Linked DNA regions of Homo sapiens: region 2 is linked to region 1. The links come from fine-mapping of genetic effects on gene expression. A gene starts in region 1. The other region holds a variant in brackets. All regions are shown on one strand. Distances are between the middles of the regions.

Region 1 (15,218 bases):
AAATGAAGCCAGTCCCATGTTATACTCTGAAATCCATCACAGCATTTGTGCTGATATTTCCAGCCTGTGACAGCGTGGCAGGAACACTAAGGCAGGGTCATTCCAGGAGAGCATGTGGGATTTCTCTGACATCTGGCTTGGACTCCCTGTTGGCCTTGCCAAATCTCCTTAAAACTGCACTGCAGTCATAGACCCTTCCTTCCCTCCTCTCTCTCCCCTTCCTTTCTTCTCTTGCCTTATTCTCTCTCTCCTTCACAGATGTCAAACCTGCACTGTGGTCTTTTAGCTCTCCCAGCCTCCAAGAGTTCCCTCCCTATTTCCCCTCATGGACATTTCTCCTAATTAATTGCTTGCACATCTAACCCAGTTTTGGCATCTGCTTCTCAGAAGATCTAGACTAATGCACAAGAATTCTGTTATTGCCCTGACTCAAAAACATGTATATATACGTATATACATTTTTAAAAAGTATATATATATATATATATATATATATATACTTTTTTTTTTTTGAGAAGAGTTTTGCTCTTGTCGCCCAGGCTGGGTTACAGTGGCACTATCTTGGCTCACTGCAACCTCCACCTCCCGGGTTCAAGTGATTCTCCTGCCTCAGCCTCCCAAGTAGCTGGGATTACAGGTGCCCACCACCACACCCTGTTAATTTTTTGTATTCTTAGTAGAGACGGGGTTTCACCATGTTGGCCAGGCTGGTCTGGAACTCCTGACCTCAGGTGATCCACCCACCTCGGCGTCCCAAAGTGCTGTGATTACAGGCGTGAATCACTGTGCCCGGCCTCAAAAACATATTAAACGAGCAGGAAGAAGAAGGAGAAGGAGGAGGAAGAAGAGGAGGAGGGGAGGAAGGGGAGGAGAAGGGGGAAAGGAGGAAGAGTGGGAAAAGAGGAGGAAGAGGAGGAGAAGGAGGAGGAAGGAAGCGTACCGATCTCCTAAATTGTTAGAAGGTCATCTCACATTAAAGATTTATTCAGAGACTAAGAAAGTATATGAAAAATTGATGTTTGTCTTTGTTATTCCTAATTGAAAACTGTTAAAAATAGTTTGCTTATGTAGTATATATACATATATATATATATATTTTGCTGTTTGTTTGTTTTTTTAGACAGAGTCTCACTCTGTCACCAGGTTGGAGTGCAGTGGCGCAATCTTGGCTCACTGCAACCTCCACCTCCCAGGTTCAAGTGATTCTCCTGCCCCAGCCTCCTGAGTAGGTGGGACTACAGGCGCCCACCACCACGCCCGGCTAATTTTTTGTATTTTTAGTAGAGACGGGGTTTCACCATGTTGGCCAGGATGGTCTTGATCTCTTGACCTCTTGATCCACCTGCCTTGGCCTCCCAAAGTGCTGGGATTACAGGCGTGAGCCACCGTGCCTGGCTGTAGTATATTCTTATAATTTTATGCTGCCACGGCATACATTTTGAAATTGGACTCATATCAGAAGCAGGGCTCAGTTTCCAGTTCTACACCTTCCCAGTTCCTCAATGTGGCCAATCCACACATCTACCTTATACAGCTTCCTCCTGGTGACCACCTCCCAGTGGGACGGCTATTAATCAGTGCAGCCTGCCTGACTGGCCCGCTGAGCCTCACTACCTGCATGGACTGTGCAGACATGCCACAATGACCACCTGTCAGTCACTGTGTGACCTCCTGGCAGTCATGCCTGCTTGTTATGAACTCACTAATTAAAACTCCCCACGGGAAACCCCCGGAACCAATAAGGGCACTTGCCCACAGACCCCCCTCTCTCCCCCTGCGCAGACTCCTGGATATCTCTGTGTGTGGCCTCCAGGCATGCAGGTACCCAGTAAGTAATAAAACCTTTATTTCCATCTTGTGTCTCTTCTAATCATTGGAGGAGTACTCTACATCTTAAAGATCTTAAATTAAAACAGTTTAGAAGGCCAGTTTTTAAGAAATACAATTCAATTATCCATTCTATTGATTTTGTGGATAAAGACAACTTTATTGTATAAAAATAAAACCTTGGCCAGGCCCGGCGTCTCACGCCTATAATCCCAGCACTTTGGGAGGCTGAGGTGGGTGGATCACCTGAGGTCAGGAGTTCCAGACCAGCCTGGCTAACATGGTGAAACCCCGTCTCTACTAAAAATACAAAAAATTAGCAGGGTTTGGTGGCACGCACCTGTAATCCCAGCTACTTGGGAGGCTGAGGCAGGAGAATTGCTTGAACCCGGGAGGTGGAGGTTGCTGTGAGCCAAGATAGTGCCGTTGCACTCCAGCTTGGGCAACAAGAGTGAAACTCCATCTAAAAATAAAATAAAATAAAATAAAAGCTCTCCTTCCACTCAGAAATATATGTAATCTCATAGCTTAGTCTCCAGTATAACTCTGTGAGAAGAACTGTAGTCCAGTGTCCCATTCTTTTTTTCACTTAAAAAAAGGCAGTTTTTCATCAAAGGAACAATATGGAGGCATAATATGAAAGAAGGACATTGCCTATGGCAGATTTTATTTTCTAAAGACACCACAGTACGTCTCATCACATATGCTCTTCCAAAATGTGGCCTTGCAAACTTGAAGAAAAATAGAGCCTGAAGTAAATAATATTTACTCCCAGAAAATGGCACATCCCTTATTCTGTCAGGCTGCTGGTGTGGTTGCCTAAGTCCATCTAAACTATAGTTAAGCTGAATTAGGGTTTGTTATAGGTTTAATAGATTCAGTTCATTATTGGCTTCAAATATTCTTGAAGGCATGATCAAGACTTTCCTCTTACAGAAAGGAGGTCTGCATAGAGATTTCTTCGTGCTTTGCAGCCTAGCCACCAGCAATCTGAGCCTTGGGAGATCTTTGTGCTTTACAGCCTGCTACCTTTTTGTTTGCTGGGGAATAGTCTTTGCTCTCCACTCACATCCTTGGCTTTCTGTATCTTGTGAGATCTCTTGCTATCCTGTGTGGAATCCTATTCCAGCCATTGGAGGGCTCTTTCAGTGTACCATAGAGAGAGTTTTCTTTTCTGCTGCTACGTTAGTCCTGGAGTTAAAGAACCAGATTGCTTTGCTGGAATTTTTCTTATTTTTCCTCACTTTACCCCAGCTTTTAGCCACTATCTTGCATTTGGGGAAGGCTTATACACCTTGAAATAGTTGGAGATGAAGAATATCTATTAGCACTTGACATGGTTTGGCTGTGTCCTCACCCAAATCTCAGCTTGAATTGTATCTTCCAGAATTGCCAGATGTTTTGGGAGGTACCCAGGGTAGGTAATTGAATCATGGGGGCCGGTCTTTCCCATGCTATTCTCGTGATAGTGAATAAGTCTCATGACATCTGATGAGTTTATCAAGGGTTTCTGCTTTTACTTCTTCCTCATTTTTCTCTTGCCACCACTATGTAAGAAGTGCCTTTCGCCTCCCACCATGATTCTGAGGCCTCCCCAGCCATGTGGAAATATAAGTCCAATTAAACCTCTTTTTCTGCCCAGTTTCAGGTACGTCTTTATCAGCAGCATGAAAACGAACTAATGCAGCAATCTTGCCTGACCACGGCCTTTGTAGCTTATATGTCTTGTTTTAAAAGAAAGCCCATGGGTTAGAGCTGGCAAATAGTTGCAGTCATTCTGTAGCTGGGGCTCTGGATTATAAACTGTCACATAGTCCAGGTAGGGGCAGTAGAAGATGGTTAAATAGTCATTTAGTTTCTCCTTATCCCTCTCAAAGGTAGTTTCTCCCTTCCACAGCCAGTCTATAAGAGATGAAAGTGACTATGAGTTTTTTTCCCCCTCTAATAATGTCTCATCACTTCTTGGATTTTAGTTCCTCTAGTGCCTTTAGCCCCTCAGTTCTTCGATAGTTTTTTGTTGTAAGTATGATTTGGTAGCTTATCTAGCTTGTTTTTACTTACTTTGAGACAGGGTCTTGGTCTGCACCCAGGCTGGAGTGCTGTGGCGCCATCATAGCTGACTGCAGCCTTGATCTCCTGGGCTCCAGCAATCCTTCCCCCTCAGGCTCCTGAGTAGCTGGGATAGCTGGGATTACAGGTATGCACCACCACACCCAGCTAATATTTTCAATTTTTAGTAGAGATGGGGTCTCACTATGTTGTCCAGACTGCTTGTTCTTATTAGGGTGGGAACAAATGGTCTTTTGAAAATTTCTATATCCAAATCAGGAGAAATTGCAACATGTCCATTTGTTTTCCTATTTTCAGACATTGTTTTGTTTCCTCTATCAAAAGCCGTATCTCCTATCAGACAACTCTCCTACAACTATAGCTCTTGCCTGGCTTCTGTAACTGTTCCCTTAAATCACCCCCTTAGTCTTAGGGGTAATTAGAACTTCCTGCTCTTACTATCTCTGAGCTGCCTCATCATGCTTTGTTGGTTTCCTTTTCTTTTTGAGACAGAATTTCACTCTGTCACCCAGGCTGGAGAGCAGTGGCGCGATCTTGGCTCACTGCAACCTCCACCTCCTGGGTTCAAGTGATTCTCCTGCCTCAGCCTCCCAAGTAGCTGGGATTACAGGTGCCCGCTACCACGCCTGGCTAATTTTTGTAGTTTTAGTAGAGACGGGGTTTCACCATGTTGGTCAGTCTGGTCTCAAACTCCTGACCTCAGGTGATCCACTACCCTCGGCCTCCCAAAGTGCTGGGATTACAGGTGTGAGCCACCGCACCCAGCCGGTTTCCTTTAACTTTGTCCACACTTTTGAAAATAGTCCCTTTTTGAAATTCTTCTCAGTTATGCTATTTGAACGAGTCATCTCCTTTTTGCTGGGACCCTGACTGATAGGTGGTACTTCTCTGGGAAAACAAAGTGATTCAGCCTATAGGGAGATAGTGAAGATATTATGCAGAAGCCAAAGAGAGAGTTGCAATAGTTGGTTGAGTGATAGTTGAAGTGGTACTAATGTTGGTGACACCCAGGAATGGGAAGAGAATGAATAGATTTCCCTGCCAATGCCTCATCTTTTGTAAACCTCTGGCTATTAAAAAGGAAAGTTGAGCATCATCAAAGCATTGTTTGTGTTTGAGGATCATTTTCCAGGTTAGTTTTTGAAATATTTCTAGCTGTATATAAAAGGTTAATGTGGAATAGAAAGCCTAACAAATTAATGAGGTCTTGTTGGTATGGTGGGGTCAGGGGAGGGAAGGAGAGGCTGGAAGAGGGAGCAGAGAATTCTAAGAAGACGAATTATTTTAATCAGCTGCAATGTTTAATTTAATTTAATACAATTTAGCATTTGCAATTACATAATTTACTCCGTATGAACCTTTAGGTTAGATATAGTATTGTAAACTTGCAAATCTCTTTATAAAACCTTTTTCTTTGGTAGAAACTACTATGAAGTAAATAAACCTTTATTGCCTTCGCTTAGTGCCTGGAACACAGTAGGCCTTTACAAAATGTCAGATCTATGAATACTAGCTGACATTTATTGAGGCCTTCCCCTGTGCCAGCCACTATGCAAAAAGTGCTTGACATACTTCTAAAATCTCAATTTATAGGTGAGGAATTAAGGATACAAGATGCATTTCTATAGTAGAGAAGCAGTAAACTGATAATGAATTAATTGAGGTGAAGTCTGAGTTATTTGAAGATTTTCAGTTATTTTTGTGAAAAAATAAGTTTATTGAAATTCACGACCAGAACACAAAAATAATCTCTCTTGATTTTCTTTTTAAAATTTTTTAAAAAACTTTTGTTGACACGTAGCAGATGTATATATTTACGGGGTACATGAGATGTTTTGATACAGGCATGCAATGTGAAATAAGCACATCACGGAGAATAGGGTATCCATCCTCTGAAACATTTATCCTTTGAGTTACAAACAATCCAATTACATTCTTTAAGTTATTTTAAAATACACAATTAAGTTCTTATTAACGATTGTCACTTTATTGTGCTATCAAATAGTAGGTCTTATTCATTCTTTCTATTTTTTTGGACCTATTAACCATCCCCACCTTCTCCCGCTCTTGATTTTCCTTTGCATGCATGTATTCATAAAGTTTATTAGTATTTTGCAAATCTTTGTAGGATAAGTCTGACCTGTCCAGGTCACAATTATAGGGCACATATCTTATTTTCTGAGAGAAGCAGGGATTTTATTTTATTTTTTATTGTTTCACTTATTTTCTCCCTTTCATTTGCCTCTACTTCGTTCTCTTTTAAATCTTTCACATGTTTTCATTCATTACTTGCTTCCTGCCTTCCTTCCCTCAAACAAGGCCAGGTGCTTAGTTTTGAAATCTCATTCAAAATGGTGCCACGTCATCTGCCAGGGCCAAGAATCCAGAGGTGCTGTCATATTTCTCCTTGCCAGCGTGGATCTCCTCCGAGCCCCGCCCTCCCTCCTCACCTGCTCCTGGGGAAACTACACCAAGGCCGCCGCTCTGGCCTGGGGCTCCCTCCCACACGGCCTTGGCCCTCTCCCCCTCGCCCCGGGACCGCTCCGCCCCTCCCGGATCCCGGTCGGCGGAGCGCATTTATTTGCATATTTCTACCTTTGTTCCCTGCCAGCGGCCAATCAGCGCGCGGGGCGAGACGAAGGGGCTGGGCGGGGCTCGGGCTCCTGCTCCGGCTCAGCTGCGGCGGCCGCAGGTTCCAAAGCGGGTCCGAGCCGCCGCCGCGCGCGCGCCGCGCACTGCAGCCCCAGGCCCCGGCCCCCCACCCACGTCTGCGTTGCTGCCCCGCCTGGGCCAGGCCCCAAAGGCAAGGACAAAGCAGCTGTCAGGGAACCTCCGCCGGAGTCGAATTTACGTGCAGCTGCCGGCAACCACAGGTTCCAAGATGGTTTGCGGGGGCTTCGCGTGTTCCAAGAACTGCCTGTGCGCCCTCAACCTGCTTTACACCGTGAGTATCCCCAGTCCGTTCCTGCTCGCTTGGGGGCTTTGCACCTGCTTGGGAGCTCTTTGGCTTCCCTGCCTGGTCAGCGACTCACTCGTTGCATCCCGCGCCCCCTTCCCGGCTTCCCACGTCTGCGCGCCCCCGGCCTCACCATCCGTCCCCGCCGGGGACCGGGCGCCGGCGCTTGTCGCAGTCTCTTCCTTTCGTTCATTGTGAAGCCGCGGTCTCTCAGGCTCGCTGGCCGCGTCTCTGCCACATTGCTCCACCCCGCCCCCTCACCCACCGCCTTGTTTTTCAAACATTCAACCGGACCTCTCCGCTTTCCCACCCCGTACCCTTCTGCCGCTCGCTCCTGACATCCAGACGCATCTGGGCCAGGCGTGGAGGCGCGAGAGCCGTCAGGGCTTGCGGACAGTTTTGCGGAATGGCGTGGCCTGAAACTGACGAGGCGGCATATGGCTGGTGTGCCTCTGGGTTAGCTCTTGGTACCCTCGGGATTTTAATTGAGGCCACTGAGTAGGTTCACAGGATGTCCGCTGCTTCCGAAGTTTGTTTCGTGCTCACAGTAAAGGGATGTCTTTTTGTTTTTGTTGTTGTCAGTTTTGCTAGTACTTGGTGCTTTTTCTGTGTGTCTTGTCCATGATCAATATCCTAACTCCATTTTAAACCAAGTCCTCCAGGAAATAAGCGAGCCCCCACCCAAGTCGTTTCTTTCCCTGCCAACCAGCTTGGGCCTCTTAGTTTTAACGCTGCAGGCTCTCTTTGTGATTTTTTGAGGCGCAATTCTGGGTGAACAGGAGGATGGGCAGGACAGATCGACATTTATTGAATGCCTATCACGTCCCAGGTTTTACATACACAATGCTCGTTCATCATTCTGACAACCTTCTGAGGGAATGGGGCATTATCTGCATTTTATACATAAGGTAACAGACCAAAAAGGTTTTAGTAAGTTTACATAGCTGGTAGTTGACGAGTCAGGAGTGGAACCTAGGCTGTGGAATCCAGATCTTTCCACAGGCTGTCTCTACCGGGCGGAAGAAACTTCCTCTTCTGTCATCATCCCTCCATAGTAGTCTTGCTCCCTTCTATAAATATACCTGGCGCTTTGCAGCACCCACCCTGAAAACAAACCCAGCACCCCTGCATTAGCAGAGAGCTAGGCCATCTGTGCAAGCTTAGATTACCTCCTTGGAATAGAGAGGCTGCCTTGTGGTCACCAACAGGAGAAGGAGGTTGGGTCATTTTACCTTTACTGTTCCTTTGTATGTGAACATGACTGCAAGCTTTGAAGGCAAGACAGAAACAGGCATTGAGTACGCTTTTATGGCTAGTTAGTAAGAATCTGGTCAACATGGTCATTAATAGTAGACTTGGGAAAAAAATTTTAGAACACCTGGTGATACAGTTCCTTGGAGATACATGTCAAGTTTCAGATCAAAATTCATCTGTATCACCCTGAGGTATGCTTATCACCCTGGCTGTTTATTAAGTAAATGCTGACCAGTTCTCTAGGGTTTTTTTTTTTTTTTTTAAATCAGTGTGAGTGGCCTGCTTGGAACTTTAAATTCCTTATTTTGTGACCTGAGTTCTGTTTTTTTTCTGCCAATGATTTAGTCATCTGTTTGCCAGACACTTAGTCTTACAGTGCCTGCTTACACAGAGTGGAATGTCTACTTTGCATACTTACTTCACTGAAGGGTCTATATCAATGTATAATCTTTTTTAAAAAGGCAAGTTATTTTAAAATGAAGTTCCTTGCTTTCTAGACATCATTTTTAGTTGTATTTAGAGTATATCAGGAAAGTGAGGCGAAAGAAAGGTGATTCTAAAGGGACATATTAAGACTATTTAATATCTATTCTAAATTATTGACCTTCAAAGTGTGTGTTCTATTGATTTTAATAGCTATGCAGTAAAACTTAATGAATTGGAAATTCACGGGACAATAAAAATGGCTAGCCCTTTTAAATCATAGACTTTTTAGACAAAGGGACATTTCTTAAAATGAATTAGTGGCTGCTTGCTTCTTTTACATTGTAAATAGGCTTAAATAACTGCAGCAGTTTAAAGTGGAGGCAAGTGACAGGTAAAAGTTGGATCAAGTCTTAGATAGATGCTGAAAATGTGCCATGGCCATTATTTAGCTTCTATTTCTCCCCTGATCTCTTTCTCAACATTTTAAGATGAAAAAAATGTGAGGCAGTTGGGGATGGGATTGAGCATGAAGACTTGGGAGACATTTCTCTATAAGTCATGAATAGAAACATTCTTTGTAGGTTCTAATCCCACCCTGGTCACTGCCTCTAAAATGTGCTCAACGCTACAGGATTACATTTGAGGTCATTTCTAAAAGTGTTGGTTAAACCAGGATTGCATATGGGAACGGCAGATGCCTGAAACATCATCATTGCTGTGTTGAAGCATTTTACTGAGGAACTTAGGACTGTATCAGCTGAACTGTCCACATGCTCTGGTGGCTTGCTGATGAGCCTGAGATTCGTGCCACATTCATGATCAGCTCAGAAAGCATGTCACTAAAAACAAGTTGGAAGTCCCAAACAAGGAAATTTGATCACTAGGCAAAATGTTAACAGTTGATTTTTCTTGTTGTTTATGGCTTGATTATTTTAGTTAATAGGATCGCCAGTACTGGACAAGCTTAAATTAGTGTAGTATGTGTTAACAGTTTGTAAATATAGAAGAAAAGGGGGAAGCTACATTCCTGAATTCACCTTCACAGTATTCTAAGAGAATGACTTGCCTCAGAGCTTCCTGCATTTAAAGAAACTTTCAGTTTCTTCATTCAACAATTATTGAGTGCCTACTGTGTGCCAGGCTCTGTTCTCAGTTTGGAAATACAGCAGCAAACCAAACAGGGCGTAAAAATCAATGTGCTTTTATGAAGGCTCTTTTTTATTTACTACCTTTTATACATATGTTTTCAGGAATTGTATTCAGTCAATAAACTTTTGTCTACTGTGTGCACTCTTTTGAGAACTGTGGGAAATAATAAATACCTATAAAGGCAAATGCATTGTGAAGACAGGATCTAGATGAGAGACATGGAATGGGAAAATTAAATGGCGTATAAGGAATATACTGACTTTAGGTACCATAAAATTTAGGACTGTGGCAGATATTTGTGGGTTAGAGAAGTTGGGGGAATAAAGGAGGTGTGATTGAATCAAGGAAATGTAGAAATAGTGTGTGGGTCTTTTTGATACCATTTAGGATATACATAAAAATGAAAATGATTTGGGAAAATGACTTATTTTTAATAGTTTATAGGAATATTTTAGGCTGAAAAGATTTTGACAAGTAGTGAAAAAAACTTTTGAAAATTATGCTTAGTGATTTGTGGGAAATTTTAGAAAATATGAAATAAAATTTGTATTAAAATACGTAATATTTTGAAGCTTTATAATGTGTCTCCTTGTGCTTCTTAACCAGAGAAGAAAGCTCTATTAAAAACAAACAACCAAAAAAAAGGTAGCTGACTTTGTTAAATAGAACCAAACTGAAAAATATGACCAAACATATATTTACTGGGACTTTTTAAGAGTTGCCCTGCCAGTTTTAAAATCAGGAGGGAAATTTCAGAAGTTGCAGTTTTGTTTCTCCTGTGTGTGTTCATTCTTATAACATCTTTCCATGTTTGTTTCTTTCTCTTTTTCGTGATTCTTTTTCCTTATACTTTTGGTTGTTTTGAGAAAAATTCTCATGCAGCATAAAAATTATACTGAATTACTTCATAAACACCTTAATTTATATTTTTATCACCTCTGAAGTTGGGATGCATTTTATTGTTTCTATTTGTATTTTTGAGATGGAGTTTCACTCTCGTTGCCCAGGCTGGAGTGCAATGGCGCGATCTTGGCTCACTGCAACCTCCGCCTCCTGGGTTCAAGCGATTCTCCTGCCTCAGCCTCCTGAGTAGTTGGGATTACAGGTGCCCGCCACCATGTCCAGCTTATTTTTTGTATTTTTAGTAGAGACGGGGTTTCGCCGTGTTGGCCAGGCTGGTCTTGAACTCCTGACCTCAGGCGATCCACCCGCCTCGGTCTCCCAAAGTGCTGGGATTACAAGCATGAGCACTTTATCTACTATAAAATGCTCCCGGCCTGGGATGCATTTTATAGTAGATAAAGTGTGCCATATCTGTTAGATAAAAAAATACGACCATACAATTTATGGGAAGAAAATTCTGTTTTTAATCTGTTAGATAAAAAACATATGTCCATACAAATTATGGGAAGAAAGATCACTGGATTTATGAAGAAAACTGAAACTTTTCCAACTCTGTTACTAGACAAACAGCTTACTTTGAGTTTCAGTTTCTTCATATATAAATTGGTGATGATATTTTTCAGTCGTCCCCTCATGAAGCTGTGTAAGGATAAAATCAGATAGTATATAAATGCTTTAGATGTATAATAGAAATAAAATTAAGTTGTTACAGCTTCAGGTGGAAAAAGTTGAATTTTGCTGAATTTATAGACTTGGCTTCTTCTTTCCAGCTATTCTTCACAGGTAAAACTTGCATAAAGAAAACTCGTATAAAACAATATTTTGTTACTTTTAGTCTGCAATGATCAAGGTTAAGTGCAGAAGCACAGCTAAATATTTTAAAGCATGAAAGTTGGCATTAGGTTAAAAAGTAGTAATATTAAGTAGGAATTACTTTTATTTATCCACTGTAGAATCGAATATTTCTTGTAATACCCTTTTTTTTTTTTACATAATTGGCCAACCTTTCAAACGTGTCTGTGGGTTTCCTCTACCGTTTCTCTTGAATGAATCTACTTCCTGTAAAATTGTATTATAATTGTAACTGTTTGGGGTTATTTGTGAGTCTAATGTAAGTTTGAGATGTGCCCAAGTTATTTTCTGTTTTTTATTCTAATAATGAATATTAATTGAGCATCAATAGCAGTGAACAAAATCCCAATGGCTTGCCTTCATGGAGTTTATATTTATGGGGGTGGACAGATGATAAATAAGTAAGTAAATTATATATCGTATTAGAAGGTAAACAAGTTTTATGGAGAAAAATAAAGCGGAGTAAAAGGAAAGATAGGTGGGGCAGTGGAGCGGATGTGGGAGGATGGGTACACAGCTTCACATATGGTGGTCATGCTTGGCCTGCATGGAAAGAAAACAGTGTACGAAAGGTGTTAGACTGTTCTTGCATTGCTATAAAGAAATACCTGAGACTGGATAAAGAAAAGAGGTTTAATTGGCTCATGGTTCTGCAGGAAGCATAGTGCTGGCATCTACTTCTGGTGAGGGCCCCAGGAAGCTTACAATCATGGCAGAAGGGGAAAGGAAGTCCCTGTGTCACATGGGGAGAGTGAGGGGGAGGTGCCAAACGCTTTTAAACAACCAGATCTCACGTGAACTCAGAGGGAGAACTCACTTATCACTGAGGGGATGGTGCCAAACCATTCATGGGGGATCCACCCCTACGAATCACCTCCCTCCAGGCCCCACCTCCAACATTGGGGATTACATTTCAACATGAGATTTGGAGGAGGCAAATATCCAAACTGTATCAAAAGGCCTAAAGGAGATGAAGAACAGTTATCTAAGAAAAGTGTTTCAGGTAGAGGGAATCGTCTTTGAAAAGACCCTGATGAAAGAGTATTTCTGCTTTTTTTTCTTTTCTTTCTTTCTTTTTTTTTTTTTTTTTGATATAGGGTATTGCTCTGTCACGCAGTGGCGTGATCTCAGCTCACTGCCAGAGAGCTGTCTCCTGGGCTCAAGTGATCCTCCCACATCAGCCTACCTAGTAGCTGGGACTACAGGCATGTACCACCATACCCAGCTAATTTTAAAAAATATTTTGTAGAGACGGGGTCTGTGTTGTCTGGGCTAGCCTTGAATACCTGGCCTCAAGCAGTCCTCCCACCTTGGCCTCCCAAATTGCTTGGATTACAGGTGTGAGCAACTGTGCCTGGCCAGGAGGAGTATTGCTGGTTTATGCAAGGGACAGATGAGTCAAATATGAGTGGGACAGAGCAAGCAAGCAGTACAATGCAGGAAATGAGGTCAGAGAAGTCAGGGGTGGACCCAGGAGAGCACTATAGGGCCATGAGCTTTTATACCAAGTGAAATGGGGAGCCAATGGTGTGTTTAGGTTTGAGGACTGATATAGTCTGATTTTTATGTAAAAGGCTATATGGCTTTTGAGTTAAGAATATATTATAGATGGCACAGGTGGGAGCATTGAGACTAGTTACAAGGCTATTGCTATAATTTGCACATGAGATGATGGAGGCTTGGATTAGTATGGTGGCAACAGAATTAAAAGAAATAGATTCTGAGAGTGTTTTGGAGGTAGGGCGACCTGATTTACTGAAAGGGACAAGTCACAGATTACTATGATTTGTGGCTCAGGCTCAAGGAATTGGCAGGATAGATTTGCCGTTAACTAGGATGGAGAAGATGGCAGGTGGAGCAGACTTTGGGATGAATGAGAGGATTCAGTATTGGACGTGATGCTAAAGAAACCCAAGTGGAAATGTCAGGTAGCACTTACAGTAACCACACTGTTATTCAGGGGAGAGGACTTGCCAACAAGTTAGTGAGGGTAGATGGAGAAGGGCAGTGGTCCATGGATTGAAGTAGTGCATTTCAAACATTAAGAGATTCAGGAGATGAGGAACATTCAGCAAGGGAGCCTGAAAAGGAATGGCCAGTCAGGTAGGAGGAAAATTGCAGAGAGGTTGGTGTCTCAGAAGTCAAGTGCAAACCATTTCAAGGAGATGGGGACCGAGAGTTGGTTCTCGAATTTGTCAGTGAAGAAGTCGTTGAAAAGAGCAGTTACCCTTTTATTTTTCTTATAATCCTCTGAACAATAAAGGCAATGTCGCAGTCATTCTGGCTTTCCTGTGTGCCCGGCACAGCCCTGGCATGTGGTTGGCATTTAGTTAATTGAATGCAGGAATCAGTACAGGGTTCTTCTGCCCATACTTCATTTCTTGTCTCCCAGAAATGCTCCAAAGAAGGAAGTGGTAGAGTGGGGTTGGAACTTTGTTGGCAGCTGTGGATGTCACCTCAAACTGGTTACCCTTGGAAAATGACAAGTGGAGGTCCCTTACTTTCAATCACCTTTATATAATTTCCATATACTTTGTATTTTTTTGCCTAGTAAGTATAAAAGCAGTGGCATCACGGAGAGCCATAATGAAGAAAAATATTCGCAAGAGCACTTCAGGCCTTCTGTGTCATTTGAAGAATGATCATAAAGCAATAAAAGAACTGAGGTTTTAGCTTCAACACTCAATGTCTGGCTATTTAGCAAAATGTAGATTATTTATAGAGTTTTCATATTTCCATCCAGCTGTTTGGCATCGTAGAAACATGTGCTTGATCTTTTCTGAATTGCTCTTCAGTTTTCCACATTAAGCAGAAGTTCAGAAGAGAGTTCAGTGTTCACGTGTAATTCCTCATTATGAATGTTGAGGCATATTGAGGAAGATAGTCTGGGGCTTTGTTTTCTTTTTTTTAGGGGCAGGGTCTCACTCTGTCACTAAGGCTGGAGTGCAGTGTGTGATGATAGCTTACTGCAGCCTTGAACCCCTGGGCCCAAGCGATCCTCTCACCTTCTCTCCTTCTGAGTAGCTAGAACTACAAGCATACTCCACCCTACCCAGCTAATTAATTTTTTTTTTTTTTTTTTTTTTTTGTAGAGACAGGGGTCTTGCTGTGTTGCCCAGGTTGGTCTTGAACTCTTGGCTTCAAGCATTCCTCTTGCATTGGCTTCCCAGAGTACTGAGATTACAGATGAGAGCCACTGAACCTGCCTACCTTTATTTTCTTTACATGTCTGTGGATGCTGTATTACATTTTGTTGGTATAGTCCTTCTGTATCTTACTACTGTTTTAAATTTGCTTGCCTTCCACTACCATCATAACTTCTCTGTTGCGTTAGTGCTAACAAAACATTTTTGAATAATTTACAACATCTAATCTGTCTTTTTGAAATGTTTTAAATTCTTTCATCCTCAAAGCAATTCACTTACCTTGGAAGAATTTTGGTACTAAAAAAAAAGGTAGTTGTTTTCACAATATTAAAATCTGTCTTTTCATCTTGTTCTTGAAATGTGGTGGATATTTGATGAAAGATTGAAGGTTATGTAGACAGAGAATAATATGGAACATCATTAGGCTGACTTTCTTCCCCTCCAAATATTGTATAGATTGGAGAATTAGCGTTTCCTTGTCCTGAAAGGGTAATGAGCAATATCATGTGCTCTTTGATTCAGCAGTGTGTTTTGAGCACCTCTTAATGCTTCACACTCTTAGCCAGGTGCTAGGAATGTAAGATAACATGGGCCTTGATTGTCTGGTGCTTAAAGTGTAGAAGGCCCATCAGAAT
Region 2 (15,218 bases), 31 kb after region 1:
GCCCTAAGCTGAATATTTCCTCAGTGAGGCTTCTTTTGTGAGATTATCTCCTTGTAGGGGGTCTGTGTTATGTTTCTGTTGCTGCGTAACACATTATTACACAGCAATAGAAACACACTGGCTTTAAATATCCATTTAGTGGCTTTAAATACCCATTTATTATCTCACAGTTTCCCTGGGTCAGGCTTGGCTGGGTCCTTTGCTCACCTGGCTGAAATCAAGGTGTCATCTGAGGCTGCAGCCTCATCTGAAGCTTGGGGTCCTCTCCCCACGCTCAGTGGTTGTTGGAAGAATTCAGTCTTTGTGGCTGTGGGACCACCCCTGTTTTTTTGCTGCCTGTTGGCTGGAGGTCTCTCTCTGCAACTAGAAGCTGCTCTCAGGTCCTATGTTACTCTTTCACAATGTGGCAGCATCAAAGTCACTGTGAGAATCTCTCCATTCTGTTAAGATGGAGTCTTTTGTAATGCGTAATGGAGTCTTATCTGATGTAAGGTAACATGGAAGTGACTGTCCTATCATATTCACAAGTTCCACGCATACTCAAGAGCAGTGATTGTATAGGGTGTGTACACCATTGAGAGGGGAGGGTGGGAGTCTTGGGGGCTGTGTTAGAGATTTGCACACTAAAAAACCAAGGCCTCAAATTGGATATAATACTCTTAGACACTAATTTTGTGTGTATGCAGTTTTTATGGGCTTTTTATAAATGTATTTTGAAATAAAGGTTTTTTTACTTTAATTGGTGCAGAGCTGTGTTAAAAGTGACCACTCGTGCTCGCCATGTGCTCCAATCATAGGAGAATATGCTGGAGAGGTTTTGAGATTTGTTGGTGGCATTGGCCTGTTCTTCAGTTTTACAGAGGTATGTGCAAATAACAATATTTTTCCTCCTTTGTCACAGAGATTCCTGTTTTGCATGACAAAGGGCCTTGATTCTTGTTATCAGTGAGCATTTTCATTGAGAACTAGCACTGTAAAAAGAGGAAACTTGGTTTAGAATCAGAAGATCTTACAAGTCTATTAATAGCACCAACTTTAGGACCGGGTGAAAGGCTTGATCTGTCTCTTCTTATGTAAAATTTAATGAACTAATGAGTGAGATTAGATTGAATTATCTCTAGGGTCTCTTCTATTTCTACAGTTGTGTGATGAATTATAATTTTAAATTTAATTTGGAAAAGGTAGGACATTCACATTGTTTAATATGTATGTTAATGTCTATAATACACAGACATACATATATAAAAAGATTATATATCTTTTTATATATATCTTGAAAAATTGCCTTCCTACACCATTTTTCATTCCCCTGTTCCTAGCCTTCTAAAACCTATGCATAATGTCTATATGTGTATAATGTATTGTGTATAATATGCAATTAATATATAGTACAATATTTATGTATGTGTATTTATCATATATTTTATTCAAGTTCAGTTTCTTTTTTTCTCATCAAGAATGAAATATGTACATTTGGCTGTCATTAACAGCATAGGAAAAAAAAAGACCAAGATTAATATTCTTTTTTTTTTTTTGAGATGGAGTCTTGCTCTGTCACCCAGGCTGGAGTGCAGTGGCACAATCTTGGCTCACTGCAAGCTCCGCCTCCCGGGTTCACGCTATTCTCCTGTCTCAGCCTCCTGAGTAGCTGGGACTACAGGCGCCCGCCACCACGCCCAGCTAATTTTTTGTATTTTTAGTAGAGACGGGGTTTCACCATGTTAGCCAGGACGGTCTGGATCTCCTGACCTCGTGATCTGCCCACCTCGGCCTCCCAAAGTGCTGGGATTACAGGCATGAGCCACCGTGCCTGGCCTAGTATTCATTTTTTATTTTTATTTATTTATTTTATTTATTTATTTTGAGACAGAGTCTTGCTCTGTTGCTTAGGCTGGAGTGTAGTGGTGCAATCTCGGCTTACTGCAAGCTCCACCTCTTGGGTTCAAGCGATTCTCCCACCTCAGCCTCCCGAGTAGCTGGGGTTACAGGCATGCACCACTACACCCAGCTAATTTTTGTATTTTTAGTAGAGACAGGGTTTCACCATGTTGGCCAGGCTGGTCTGGAACCCCTGGCCTCAAGTGATCTGCCAACCTCAACCTCACAAAGTGCTGGGGTTACAGGTGTGAGTCATTGCACCTGGCCCAATATTCATTTTTTTAAAGTTCCTTCTGACTTCCCTCTTTAGTCTGACCATTTTTTCATTTCACTGTTTCTCAGAAAAGAGCTATCTGACTTGTGAGTTGGTTGTGACATTAATTCTAGAAAAATGATATACAGCTTGACAAGAATTCTGTGCATTTCTCTCTTCTTTTGTTTAAAAACCATAGATTTTTGTTATGAAAACTTAAAAATACAGATAGAGAAAAACTGGAGTAATTTCTCTCTACACATCAGCTAGAGTCAGCAGTTATCAGAATTTTGCCACGTGGCTTCTTTTTTATATCTGGAATTTATTTTGAGAATTTAGTTCTTTTGAGCAGCCCAGTTTTCTTGTCATCAGATCACACTGCCTTCAGTTATGCTATTTTTTAAGTAGGAGTTCTTTAAAAATAGAACTCATGAGTCTTAGATTTCTAAAGTGTTCTTTCATGGAATCCTGCTTTATATCTTACATACTGTCTCCTTTGGAAATCTGGCTAGAGATTTTTATAACTTATGCAACCTGGTTTTTTAGATAGTGATAGTGGTAGGCTCTCACTTTTTAAGTTTATATTTTGCTCAATATTCACAGAATCACAGATTCTCAGAATTTGAAGGGATGCAGTTACTTAGCTGACAACTTCTTCTCATAGGTGAAATAGAAAGATTTGATTTGAACTATTTATTATACCTTTAAACAAACCTAAACCATGAGAGAAACATTGATTTAGAATCTGAAAAAAGCTATGATTAATATATGTTCTTTGTAGTAACTTGAGAAACTACAAAAAATTATGAAGATGAAAAATTAGACGTAGCTACTAAAATTACCTACTCAGAAACAATCATTTATATTGTGGCATATTTCCTTCTGCCCGTTCTATATTTAGTAAAATGAGTACCAGCTTATTGCATATTCTACATGTACTTTATTTTTCTACATACATTTTCATGTTATGAGCAATATATTTTGGTGACCTACTGCACACTGAGTGTAGGTTCTAGAGACCGCAGAGTTGATGACATCTAATCAAAGTTACCTTTGAAAAGTGCCCTCTTAATCATGAGCACTTTTGTAAGCTTGAAGTTCAATAATTATCCAGTTTTGATCTTTTTGCATTTTGGATGTAGCCTTCCTTTCTATCCCTCTCTGAACAGTCGGGCAAGGAAGGGGAGAGATTTTCCCCTTTTGGCGCTTATAGCCAAGTTGGAGGAATACAATTCTGGTAAAATGTGGCTCCGGATTATGAGTATTTAGTTTGTTTGATTGCTTTCTTCCCCCAAGGACTGTGATTTACCCTCTCAGCATATATCCAGGGGTGATAGTCAAAATGTTAACATCCTCAAAAATTCTGACCAGAAGCTCCCTGTGCTGAAAATTTCCAAGGTGGGGAGCTTTGGCAAGTGATATTTGGGCAGGTTGAGGTGGGGCGGGGGGACTCAAAGAAATAGTTGTTTAACTACAGATATGTAAGTATTTCCGTGTTGTAACAGCTAGTGTGGCTGAGAACAGCCAGTGACATGTCAGATTACCGAATAAAACCACAAAAGTGGGGTAGTTTATGGGCTCCAGGTTTGAACATGGGCTCTACCACTGAGGACCTGTGTGATTATTTTGTTTAACCTCTTGTTGCCTCAGTTTCCTCACTGGTAAAATGACGATATTGATAGTATCTATTTTGTGAAAGCTATTGGGGGGATTATATGAATTTGTAGTTTGTAGAATGGTACCTTTCATAAAGAACTCTTTGTTATGTTTGTTAAATACATTTCTTTTTCCCCATTAGATGGATTCCAAAACAGATGACTTTCCACATCTTCAAATCAGGCTTACCTTTCCTTGATTCAACCTGCAGACCTCAGTCCACCAGCTATAAACACTGCCAGTTATGAATCTTACAGTAATTTGTGGATTCTTATTGTGGTCAGTGGAGAGAATCTGGGACTTACCTAACTCTCTAGAAGTAGTTTAAAAGGGCTAATGGTGGCTACAAAGTCACATAAACAAAATTTAGGTTAAAAGTTGGCACACGTATAAAGTGGGAGATACAGTTTAAAACTCATTTTATTCTATTAAAATTTTGTATCTTTTTTAGCCTAAAGAGTTACAATTTTCATTTATTTAAAATAAACCAACTTTGAAACAGAAACAGAGCACACATTTCTTAATTTAAAAAACTATACTGGCTAACAATTTAGCGAACTTGGTGCGGGAAATGGCACAGTAACAGCTTCATCTCTTCCTACCAAGAGAGGTAGGAATTATAACATTTTAAATTTCTGTGTTGGAAAATTTATTCATTTTAAGATTTTTTGCTGTTACTTAAATTTTACTGAACTTAGTTTATTCCTGAATTATCAAAATATATGCTATTTTAGCTATTTAGACTACTTTGACTTTGTATTAGTTTTCCATATTTCTGCTGTAACAGGTTACCACACACATAGTTGCTTAACACAACACAAACTTATTGTCTTACAGTTTTGGAGATCAAAAGTTTAAAATAAAGGTACCTTCTGGAGGCCAGGCTCACCAGCCCTCCTTTTACATCTTCAAAGCTAGGAGAGTTGCAGCTTCTCTTTCTATTTCCCTTTACTTCTGCCATCACGGTGTCTTCTCTCCATGTTTCTGACTCTGTCCTTCCTGCCTCCGTCATATGTGTCCCCCTGTGATTATATCATTGAGCCCACCTGGGTAATAATCTCTTTATCTTGAGACCCTTAACCACACCCGCAAAGTCCCTGTTACTGTGTAAGGTAACATATTTGCAGGTCGTAGGGGTTAGGACATGGACATCCTTCAGGGCCAGTCATTCAGTTTACCACAGTGTTCGTTTTAATTTTTTCTCAGCGCCCGTCATTTGGTTTACTTCATTTCAAAAAGAAAAAAAATCTCTCCCCGTTGAACAAAAGATGCAAAGCGATTGAGAGGGTCCAAAGTTATTTTATTGATCAACTGAATAAATATACATAAATGTTACTTTCTTTTTCTTTACTTTATTTTTTTTTCCCCATTCCAGATCCTGGGTGTTTGGCTGACCTACAGATACAGGAACCAGAAAGACCCCCGCGCGAATCCTAGTGCATTCCTTTGATGAGAAAACAAGGAAGATTTCCTTTCGTATTATGATCTTGTTCACTTTCTGTAATTTTCTGTTAAGCTCCATTTGCCAGTTTAAGGAAGGAAACACTATCTGGAAAAGTACCTTATTGATAGTGGAATTATATATTTTTACTCTATGTTTCTCTACATGTTTTTTTCTTTCCGTTGCTGAAAAATATTTGAAACTTGTGGTCTCTGAAGCTCGGTGGCACCTGGAATTTACTGTATTCATTGTCGGGCACTGTCCACTGTGGCCTTTCTTAGCATTTTTACCTGCAGAAAAACTTTGTATGGTACCACTGTGTTGGTTATATGGTGAATCTGAACGTACATCTCACTGGTATAATTATATGTAGCACTGTGCTGTGTAGATAGTTCCTACTGGAAAAAGAGTGGAAATTTATTAAAATCAGAAAGTATGAGATCCTGTTATGTTAAGGGAAATCCAAATTCCCAATTTTTTTTGGTCTTTTTAGGAAAGATTGTTGTGGTAAAAAGTGTTAGTATAAAAATGATAATTTACTTGTAGTCTTTTATGATTACACCAATGTATTCTAGAAATAGTTATGTCTTAGGAAATTGTGGTTTAATTTTTGACTTTTACAGGTAAGTGCAAAGGAGAAGTGGTTTCATGAAATGTTCTAATGTATAATAACATTTACCTTCAGCCTCCATCAGAATGGAACGAGTTTTGAGTAATCAGGAAGTATATCTATATGATCTTGATATTGTTTTATAATAATTTGAAGTCTAAAAGACTGCATTTTTAAACAAGTTAGTATTAATGCGTTGGCCCACGTAGCAAAAAGATATTTGATTATCTTAAAAATTGTTAAATACCGTTTTCATGAAA[T/G]TTCTCAGTATTGTAACAGCAACTTGTCAAACCTAAGCATATTTGAATATGATCTCCCATAATTTGAAATTGAAATCGTATTGTGTGGCTCTGTATATTCTGTTAAAAAATTAAAGGACAGAAACCTTTCTTTGTGTATGCATGTTTGAATTAAAAGAAAGTAATGGAAGAATTGATCGATGAATTAAGTGAGGTGGAATTCTTTTCTTTCTGCTTTAGCTTCTCTCTGTTGGACTTAGAGCTGGGTATTGCTATTTTAGTGTATAATCAAGCTGTGGAAATAAATTTCCAGCATTAATGTCTATTGGTAGTCATCCTCAAATCCTTTCTTGAAATGTTTCAGTGGCTAATATTATCTCCATGGTGAGAAAAAGTTTTTCTAAAAAGAGAAGCCATTAATATTTATTTGGGAAAAATATATACGTTCTTTCCCATTACGAAAAATTATTAATTTCTTGTTTTACATTCTAGGTAGCATGTGGTATTTTATTGTCTTACTAGGTTTTTAGACCGAGAGAGGGTAAATGGTTGATCTGTAGAGTTTTAGAGCATTTTGTAGGTTTGTCACTTCCGTGACTTTGCAACACTAGCTAATTTTCCAAGGAAACAGAATTGTGCCATTTTCACAATGTCCTATGAGCTCTGGGGTAGCCCTAACAGTGTCCCCACTTATACCATAAGATGGGATTATAAGTGACATATGAAGGGAGATTTTATTATTATTTTTTATTATTATACTTTAAGTTCTGTGATACAAATGCAGAATGTGCAGGTTGTTGTTACACAGGTACACATGTGCCATGGGGGTTTGCTGCACCTATTAACCTGCCATCGAGGTGGGAAGTTTTAAAATTCTGTCTTCCTTTAAGGCATTTGGCATTTTCCATGTTTGTTTTGTTACATTTTGAAATTATTATAAGGCCCTGGAATCTCCTAATGTAATACTTTCCTTGGTACAAATGATTATATGTGGAAAGGCTATTCCATAGAGAATCAGCCCTTACCTTGGTTTGTGCTCTAATTGCAGTGCCCTTATTTGGGTCAACACAGTATGCTTCATGCTGAAGTTAAATGATGCATCCTGGAAATTCTAACAAAGGAAGGTCTCTTCTTCTGTTCAAATATAGATTGACTGATGTCAGCCTTCCTCAAGTGTGTTACTTAAAAAGCAAAGTGCAAAGAGAACAGCTGTCAGGGTGAGAAGTCTAAACACATTTTTGAAAGTAGCCTGGTGCTGACAAAATGCATTTAATCGTGCTCAAGGCTTCATGAAATTGAGTTCATTAAATTAGGATTTTAAATCATTATGGCTAAGAAAAACATGTATATCTAAATATTAAATAAAACAAAATGTAAAGATATCTAAGATGTTAAGATTTTAGTAAAATAAGTTAATGAAAAAGAAAGCCAGGGTCTGGGAAGTATGAATATTTAGGACTACTAAACTATGGGATTATAAGAGTGGGTAATGACAGTTAGCCACTCAAGAAATACACATTTTCAAGCACCAAGGTTGTCCTTGTCAAATGAGTCTGGGCTTTCTGTTTTCTCTGGCAGATCTGAAGGTGATAGATTACCTAACACCTTCTGTGATGCTTCCTGGGATCTTTGTGTCGGGGTGCATATTTAGTGGAAAACCCTCTGAATAAGTCAGTCCTGAATCCCAGATGGCCCTGCTATGATCCTGCAAAGGTCATCCTGATCCCAGGATTAGAGAGGGCCACTGCCCAAGGGCACAGAAATGCTGCCATAAACACGTAGTGTCAGAGGAGGATGAGTTTCAGATCAGGGTAGACCCTAGATGTCCTTTCTTCCCAAACCTAGCATTTCTTTAAAAAGGAACTGTGCTGCTTAAAAAAATCTCTTCTCTATTTGCACATTCCATTTATAGGAATGTTTTTTGGCACATTTGCCCGGTCAGCCTTGATGTTAAGGGTTAAATTTTATATAGAGAATATAATACTAATACAAAGGAAGAAAGAGTTCAGCTATAATTTCTAAAATCTGAGCTTGTTGTAGCTTAAATTCATCTCAGATACTCTGTTATCTAAGCAACAATGTGTTTGGTATGAAAACCAGTTTCGCATGTTCAACCTAAGTTACATGCTGCTGAATGGAACCTTTCATAGAAGGAAAGGAAACCAGAAGTGTGGCTTTTAGTTCTTCGTTTCCTTGAGCCAAAACCTCCTCCTACAATTTTTCTAAATATTTGTTTAACTCTGTTAAAGTTTATTCATTATTTTGCAAATACACTAAATACGTCAAACTGTTTCAATTTTTAGCTGGTACTAAAAAAGTTAGAATCAAATTTTTCCATAGTATTTCATAGGAGAAAAACACTTTTAGTCACTGTGGTTGTACAGACATGATCATTCATGTGTGAATTGTTTTATTAGAGATGACAATAAAGTTAAAAACCAGCTTTTCCAGGGTTCTGGATAAGTGAAGGGATTGGTGTAAAGTTTTGTTCTGTATTTGGTACGTTTTGGACTAAAATAATTTTTAGACCAGGCTTTCTGTGCCAAATGAAATTACAATATGTGTTAGTGAATGTGTTCTAAATAAATTTAAGAGTGCAATCCACCCTTTCCCCAACACCTCCACTCCACGAGAAGAGGAGAGGGAGAGAAGGGAACGGGGCTTGTCATGTGGATGTTTTTCTTAAATGTCATAACTGAGCAATTGTAGTCATTGAAATACCTCTTGAAAATATGAGAAAGGGGAAAATCAAACTCTGCCATGTGGCAGGCCAATTCTCATCACTCTCCTTAGGAAAACCAGCTTTTGGAATTCATTTTCAAATGAGGATTTGAGGCCTGTGAGTTAAAATATATGTCAAAGAATGGACTTTGACATCACTTGGGGGGTGAAACCACTTTGCCTACTTTTAGGATCTTGCTTTTCATAGATCAGGGAGTCATAACTTGACAAGTAGCCTTTTAATAGGTTAAGCTGACTTGACTTGGACTTTGAAGTCAAGGTCCTTGAACTGAAGGAAGTTCTATTCTTGCCTTAGAGCTTTTAATGATTTTTCTCCTGACTGGTATTCTTATCAGTGATTGCTAGTTAGAGGGTTCTCAGTAGACTACTTAGAATTGCTGAATTCAAGAAAGAAAGAAAACAGATTTAGACAGTCATGGAAGATCACTTGAAGAAGACTGTTGTTCCGAAATTGGTAAAAATGGTTTAATTAGGCATGTTGACCGTCTGTGTAAATGACGTTTACAGATGATTTATGTTAGCTACATTTTTTTAACAGTTAATTCCTGTTTTTTTCTCCCTAAGCTATTGAATCTCAGATAAAACTGAAATTTTTGTTATTGTGGTAAATACATATAGCATAAAAGCTATCATTTTAACCATTCATAAGCTTGTAGTTCAGTGGCAGTAAGTACATTCATATTGTTATGCAACCATCACCACCATGCATTTCCATAACGTTTAATCTTCTGTACCCATTAAGCAATAACTCCTCATTCCCCTCTTCCCCTGGCAACCTGCACTCCACTTTCTATATGAAAACGATTCTGGGTACCCCATATGGGTGAAATTGTATAGTAGCTGTCCTTTCGTGACTGGCTTATTTACTGAGCATAATGTCCTCAAGGTTCATCCACGTTGTTACATATGCCAGAACTTTCTTCTTCTTTTTTTCCATTGACATGGGGTCTTGGTATGTTGGACAGGCTGGTCTTGAACTCCCGGGCTCAAGCAGTTCTCCCACCTCCACCTCCCAAAATGCTGGGATTACAGGCGTGAGCCACTGCGCCCAGCCATGAATTTTCTTCAAGATTGGATAATATTTCATTGTATGTATATGTCACATTTTGTTTGTTCATTCATCCATTGATGGACACTTGAGTTGCTTCCACCTTTTAGCTATTGTGGATAATGCTATGAGCGTGGGTGTATAAATATCTGTTCCCTGCTTTTAGTTCATAAGCATATACCCAAGAGTGGAATTACTGGGTTGGATGGTAGTTCTGTATTTAATTTTTTGAGAGACCACCATATTGTTTTCCACAAAACAAAAATGGCTGCACCATTTTATATTCCCACTATGTTATTAACATTTTTATTTGGCTGTTTGAAATAGCACTCTTCAGTCTTCTAGTACTCTTCTACTTCTCTGTAGTCAGAGAAGTAGTCAAGATATACTTTCACTTGAAATTTATTTAAATGCAAATGATAGATTGTGAGATGACAGAAGAGGGATTTGGTAGAAAGAACAGACATTGCTAATATTTCAATGAGTTTAGAACAACCATGTTTGTATCTTCTATTTTTTTTTTTTTTTGGAGACAGAGCCTCTCTTTGTCACCCAGGGTGGATTGCAGTGGTATGGTCTCAGCTCACTGCAACTTCCGCCTCCCTTGGTTTCTCATGCCCCAGCCTCCCGAGTAGCTGGGATTACAGGCATGGGCCACTGTGCCCGGCTAATTTTTTTGTATTTCAAGTAGAGTCGGGGTTTCTCCATGTTGGCCAGGCTGGTCTCGGACTTCTGGGCTCAAGCGATACGCCTCCCAAAGTGCTGGGATTACAGGCATGAGCCACCACGATTGACCTCAATTCTGTTTTTAACCTTGTATGTACACATTTCCTGTAGTTGCAATTATAGCATAGAAGGTCTTAAATTCTTTTTTACTTAGGCCTTTTCTGTTTTGCCATTATGTTTATTATTTTTATGGATGACAACATAGTGCATTTTGTCTTTTTTTTTTTTTAATTTATTTTTTTTTATTGATCATTCTTGGGTGTTTCTCGCAGAGGGGGATTTGGCAGGGTCATAGGACAATAGTGGAGGGAAGGTCAGCAGATAAACAAGTGAACAAAGGTCTCTGGTTTTCCTAGGCAGAGTGTGTGTGTCCCTGGGTACTTGAGATTAGGGAATGGTGATGACTCTTAACGAGCATGCTGCCTTCAAGCATCTGTTTAACAAAGCACATCTTGCACCGCCCTTAATCCATTTAACCCTGAGTGGACACAGCACATGTTTCAGAGAGCACAGGGTTGGGGGTAAGGTCATAGATCAACAGGATCCCAAGGCAGAAGAATTTTTCTTAGTACAGAACAAAATGAAAAGTCTCCCATGTCTACTTCTTTCTACACAGACACAGCAACCATCCGATTTCTCAATCTTTTCCCCACCTTTCCCCCTTTTCTATTCCACAAAACCGCCATTGTCATCATGGCCCGTTCTCAATGAGCTGTTGGGTACACCTCCCAGACGGGGTGGTGGCCGGGCAGAGGGGCTCCTCACTTCCCAGTAGGGGCGGCCGGGCAGAGGCGCCCCTCACCTCCCGGATGGGGCGGCTGGCCGGGCAGGGGGCTGAGCCCCCCACCTCCCTCCCGGCGGAGCAGCTAGCCGGGCAGGGGGCTGACCCCCCACCTCCCTCCCGGATGGGGCGTCTCGCCTGGCGGGGGGCTGACCCCCCCCACCTCCCTCCCGGACGGAGCCGCTGGCCGGGCGGGGGGCTGACCCCCCCACCTCCCTCCCGGACGGGGCGGCTGGCCGGGCAGAGGGGCTCCTCACTTCCCAGTAGGGGCTGCCGGGCCGAGGCGCCCCTCACCTCCCGGATGGGGCGGCTGGCCGGGCAGGGGGCTGACCCCCCCACCTCCCTCCAGGACGGGGCGGCTGGCCGGGCGGGGGGCTGACCCCCCCACCTCCCTCCCGGACGGGGCGGCTGGCCGGGCGGGGGGCTGACTCCCCCACCTCCCTTCCGGACGGGGCGGCTGGCCGGGCAGAGGGGCTCCTCACTTCCCAGTAGGGGCGGCCGGGCAGAGGCGCCCCTCACCTCCCGGACGGGGTGGCTGGCCGGGTGGGGGGCTGACCCCCCACCTCCCTCCCGGACGGGGCGGCTGCCGGGCGGAGACGCTCCTCACTTCCCAGACGGTGTGGCAGCCGGGCGGAGGGGCTCCTCACTTCTCAGATGGGGCGGTTGCCAGGCGGAGGGTCTCCTCACTTCTCAGACGGGGCGGCTGGGCAGAGACGCTCCTCACCTCCCAGACGGGGCGGCGGGGCAGAGGCGCTCCCCACATCTCAGACGATGGGCAGCCGGGCAGAGAAGCTCCTCACTTCCTAGATGGGATGGTGGCCGGGAAGAGGCGCTCCTCACTTCCTAGGTGGGATGGCGGCCAGGCAGAGACGCTCCTCACTTCCTAGATGGGATGGCGGCCGGGCAGAGACGCTCCTCACTTTCCAGACTGGGCAGCCAGGCAGAGGGGCTCCTCACATCCCAGACGATGGGCGGCCAGGCAGAGACGCACCTCACTTCACAGATGGGGTAGCGGCCGGGCAGAGGCTGCAATCTCGGCACTTTGGGGGGCCAAGGCAGGCGGCTGGGAGGTGGAGGTTGTAGCCGAGATCACACCACTGCACTCCAGCCTGGGCACCATTGAGCACTGAGTTAACGAGACTCCGTCTGCAATCCCGGCACCTCGGGAGGCCGAGGCTGGCGGATCACTCGCGGTTAGGAGCTGGAGACCAGCCCGGCCAACACAGCGAAACCCCATCTCCACCAAAAAAATACGAAAACCCGTCAGGCCTGGCGGCGCCCGCCTGCAATCGCAGGCACTGGGCAGGCTGAGGCAGGAGAATCAGGCAGGGAGGTTGCAGTGAGCCGAGATGGCAGCAGCACAGTCCAGCTTCGGCTCGGCATGAGAGGGAGACCGTGGAAATAGAGGGAGAGGGAGAGGGAGACCGTGGAAAGAGGGGGGGGGGGGGGAGGGGGAGGGGGAGGGGGAGGGAGAGAAGAATTTTTATGACTACTCACCTAGACAGGATTAAAAAACTGCATTTTGTCTTAATATACCATGTGGCCATTATATTTTTGGGAGGTTGCTTTTCTGTGGTACGTTTAAATAATGTTACCATTGGCATCTTGACAGAACTGTTTCTGTTGAATGATTTCCTTAGGATAAATTCTCAGTGGTGGAGGAGACTGATGGGACAAAGTCAATTAATGACTCATGCTTTGTGTTTCTTCAATGCTTTTAAAAGGGGGACTTATTTTCCTTACAGCTGTAACATTTGATTTCCTAAATATTTATTTATATTTAAAAAGTATTTGTATGTGTTAAGATATTTTGCCATTCAATACATTTTAAGAAGTTAACCTTATTTCACGTCCGCCCAATGAAAAAATATTTTGCTATACTATAGGAGAAACTTGAATCACTTAGAACTTGTCATTTAAAATATTTGTTTATGGAAGGGAAACCTCTTTTTCCTCTTGTTATCCCTCAGAGATCTTTTTAAATGGAATGTTTTACCTTTTTCAGCACATGTAAGTTATCTACTTGTGAGAAGGGAGCTGATTAACCTGTGATATTTTTGCTGAAGATTTGTATGTCATTAAATCAGCAGTATATGCTCAACACCTACTAATGATAGTAGTCACTAGGAGAGATAGAAAAGATTGAAAATATATCCCTGGAAAAATTAATAATGCCAAAAGATCTGTTCAAAAAAGGTTTTATCCAAAAAAGTTAATCAAGACAAGCAACAGATACTGCAAAGCATTATATACAGCACCATAGTCCAGGGGCCAAAGAAATCAGGAGGGGCTGGGCAGTAGAGGAATTCCATATATTAATGAATGTGAGATTAAGTATAGAGTGAAGACATTAACACACAATTCTAATTTCTGTTAGGCAGAATGCTCCCCTACCCTGATGCCACAGCCTTTCACGTTTCCTAAACCCTAGTAACCTCTGATCTCCATCTGCCTCATCAACACGTCACCACCCTTTGCTCTTCTTCCAATTAGTCACATGTTGGCTGAATTTATTTCACTCCAGTACTTTAGGACCTTGACAGACAAATCGATTACAAGGTCAATTCCCAGGATTTCTTCAGGGTGTGTTCAGGAGTGCAGATGTTCTTTGGATGACCTTTCTACTAAATTAGACCTCTGAAGGAGAAAGCTACTTGCCAGAGGCTTTCCCTGAGAGCATTAGGTTGGGCAAAATCTGACTAAAATTTAATTACTAAATGAAAGTGTGTACCTTAGAGTTCCTGGCCAGAGTTGACTCTAGGTAGTGATGTGATTTTCTTGGGATGTTTTTCTAAATATTCTTTTATGCTAAAGCACATGGCTTGATACTTCTGTTGATTAAGCTCGTGTCTACTTACAGTCATCTAGTGAGAACCTGTGGTGTGGTGAGATGATAACTTGGTCTTTGGTCTTCATCATTTGAACTAGTTTTGGTTTTGTCTTGTCCCTTCCTTGAGCATTTTGTGTGTGTTTAATCCTATTTGGTAAACGAACCACTGTGAAAGACCAAGTTGGAGAAAACAGAACACCCCCAAAACATTTATTTTTTTTTTTAGAAAATCATGGCTCACTATGGTAGTATACAATATTGTTTTCACACATGTACACTTGAAACCAAATTTCTAAAACTTGTTTTTCTTAAAAAATAGTTGTTGTAACATTAAACCATAACCTAATCAGTGTGTTCACTATGCTTCCACACTAGCCAGTCTTCTCACACTTCTTCTGGTTTCAAGTCTCAAGGCCTGACAGACAGAAGGGCTTGGAGATTTTTTTTCTTTACAATTCAGTCTTCAGCAACTTGAGAGCTTTCTTCATGTTGTCAAGCACTAATGGGGGATAAAAGCAGGAGAGTCAAGACACCATCGTGCGTTATATCGATATAATAAACCCCAAACTTGGATGCTCAATTCATTATTTAATGGGATGCTTTTTTTTTTGAGACAAGGTCTCACTCCCACTCAGGCTGGCATGCAGTGGTGCAATCTCCACTCAGTGCAACCTCTGCCTCCTGGGTTCAAGTGATTCTTCAGCCTTAGCCTCCTGAGTAGCTGGGATTAGAGGTGTGCTCCACCATGCCCAGCTAATTTTTGTATTTTTGGGAGAGATGGGGTTTTGGTATGCTGGCCAGGCTGGTCTCGAACTCCTGAGCTCAAGTGATCCACACACCTCGGCCTCCCAAAGTGCTGGGATTACAGGCGTGAGCCACTGTGCCCAGCCTGATAGGATGCTTTTTATCATGAGGTGAATAGTTGGTAATCTTATTGTAATTTAAAAAAATTATATGAAATGGCTTTTGTGACAATCTAGTTTTCTAGTGTAGTCATTCCTTCCCAGATCCTTC

Direction of the effects. Positions count from the first base shown, and alleles are read on the strand shown. Sizes are in standard deviations (SD) of each study's normalised expression.
With allele G in place of T in region 2, the expression in testis of the gene that starts at base 6,566 in region 1 is higher (small effect, 0.17 SD a copy in GTEx).

The links. PIP is the estimated chance that this variant, and not a neighbour inherited with it, causes the effect.
Region 2: its variant is fine-mapped to the expression of TSPAN13 in testis (GTEx, PIP above 0.99).

What each region holds. Positions count from the first base shown.
Region 1 is chr7:16,747,190-16,762,407 of GRCh38, forward strand. It overlaps TSPAN13 (tetraspanin 13), which reads left to right and starts at 6,566. Exons shown (of 6, transcript NM_014399.4): 1 at 6,566-6,841. The coding sequence starts at 6,779. RefSeq lists a silencer at 9,155-9,449.
Region 2 is chr7:16,778,255-16,793,472 of GRCh38, forward strand. It overlaps TSPAN13 (tetraspanin 13), which reads left to right. Exons shown (of 6, transcript NM_014399.4): 5 at 749-862; 6 at 5,163-6,282. The coding sequence ends at 5,237. It overlaps LOC124901593 (a long non-coding RNA gene), which reads left to right and starts at 2,094. Exons shown (of 2, transcript XR_007060228.1): 1 at 2,094-3,529; 2 at 3,930-4,292. AGR2 (anterior gradient 2, protein disulphide isomerase family member) reads right to left here. Exons shown (of 8, transcript NM_006408.4): 8 at 13,557-14,703. The coding sequence ends at 14,654. The variant T/G (reference allele first, on the strand shown) is at 6,099.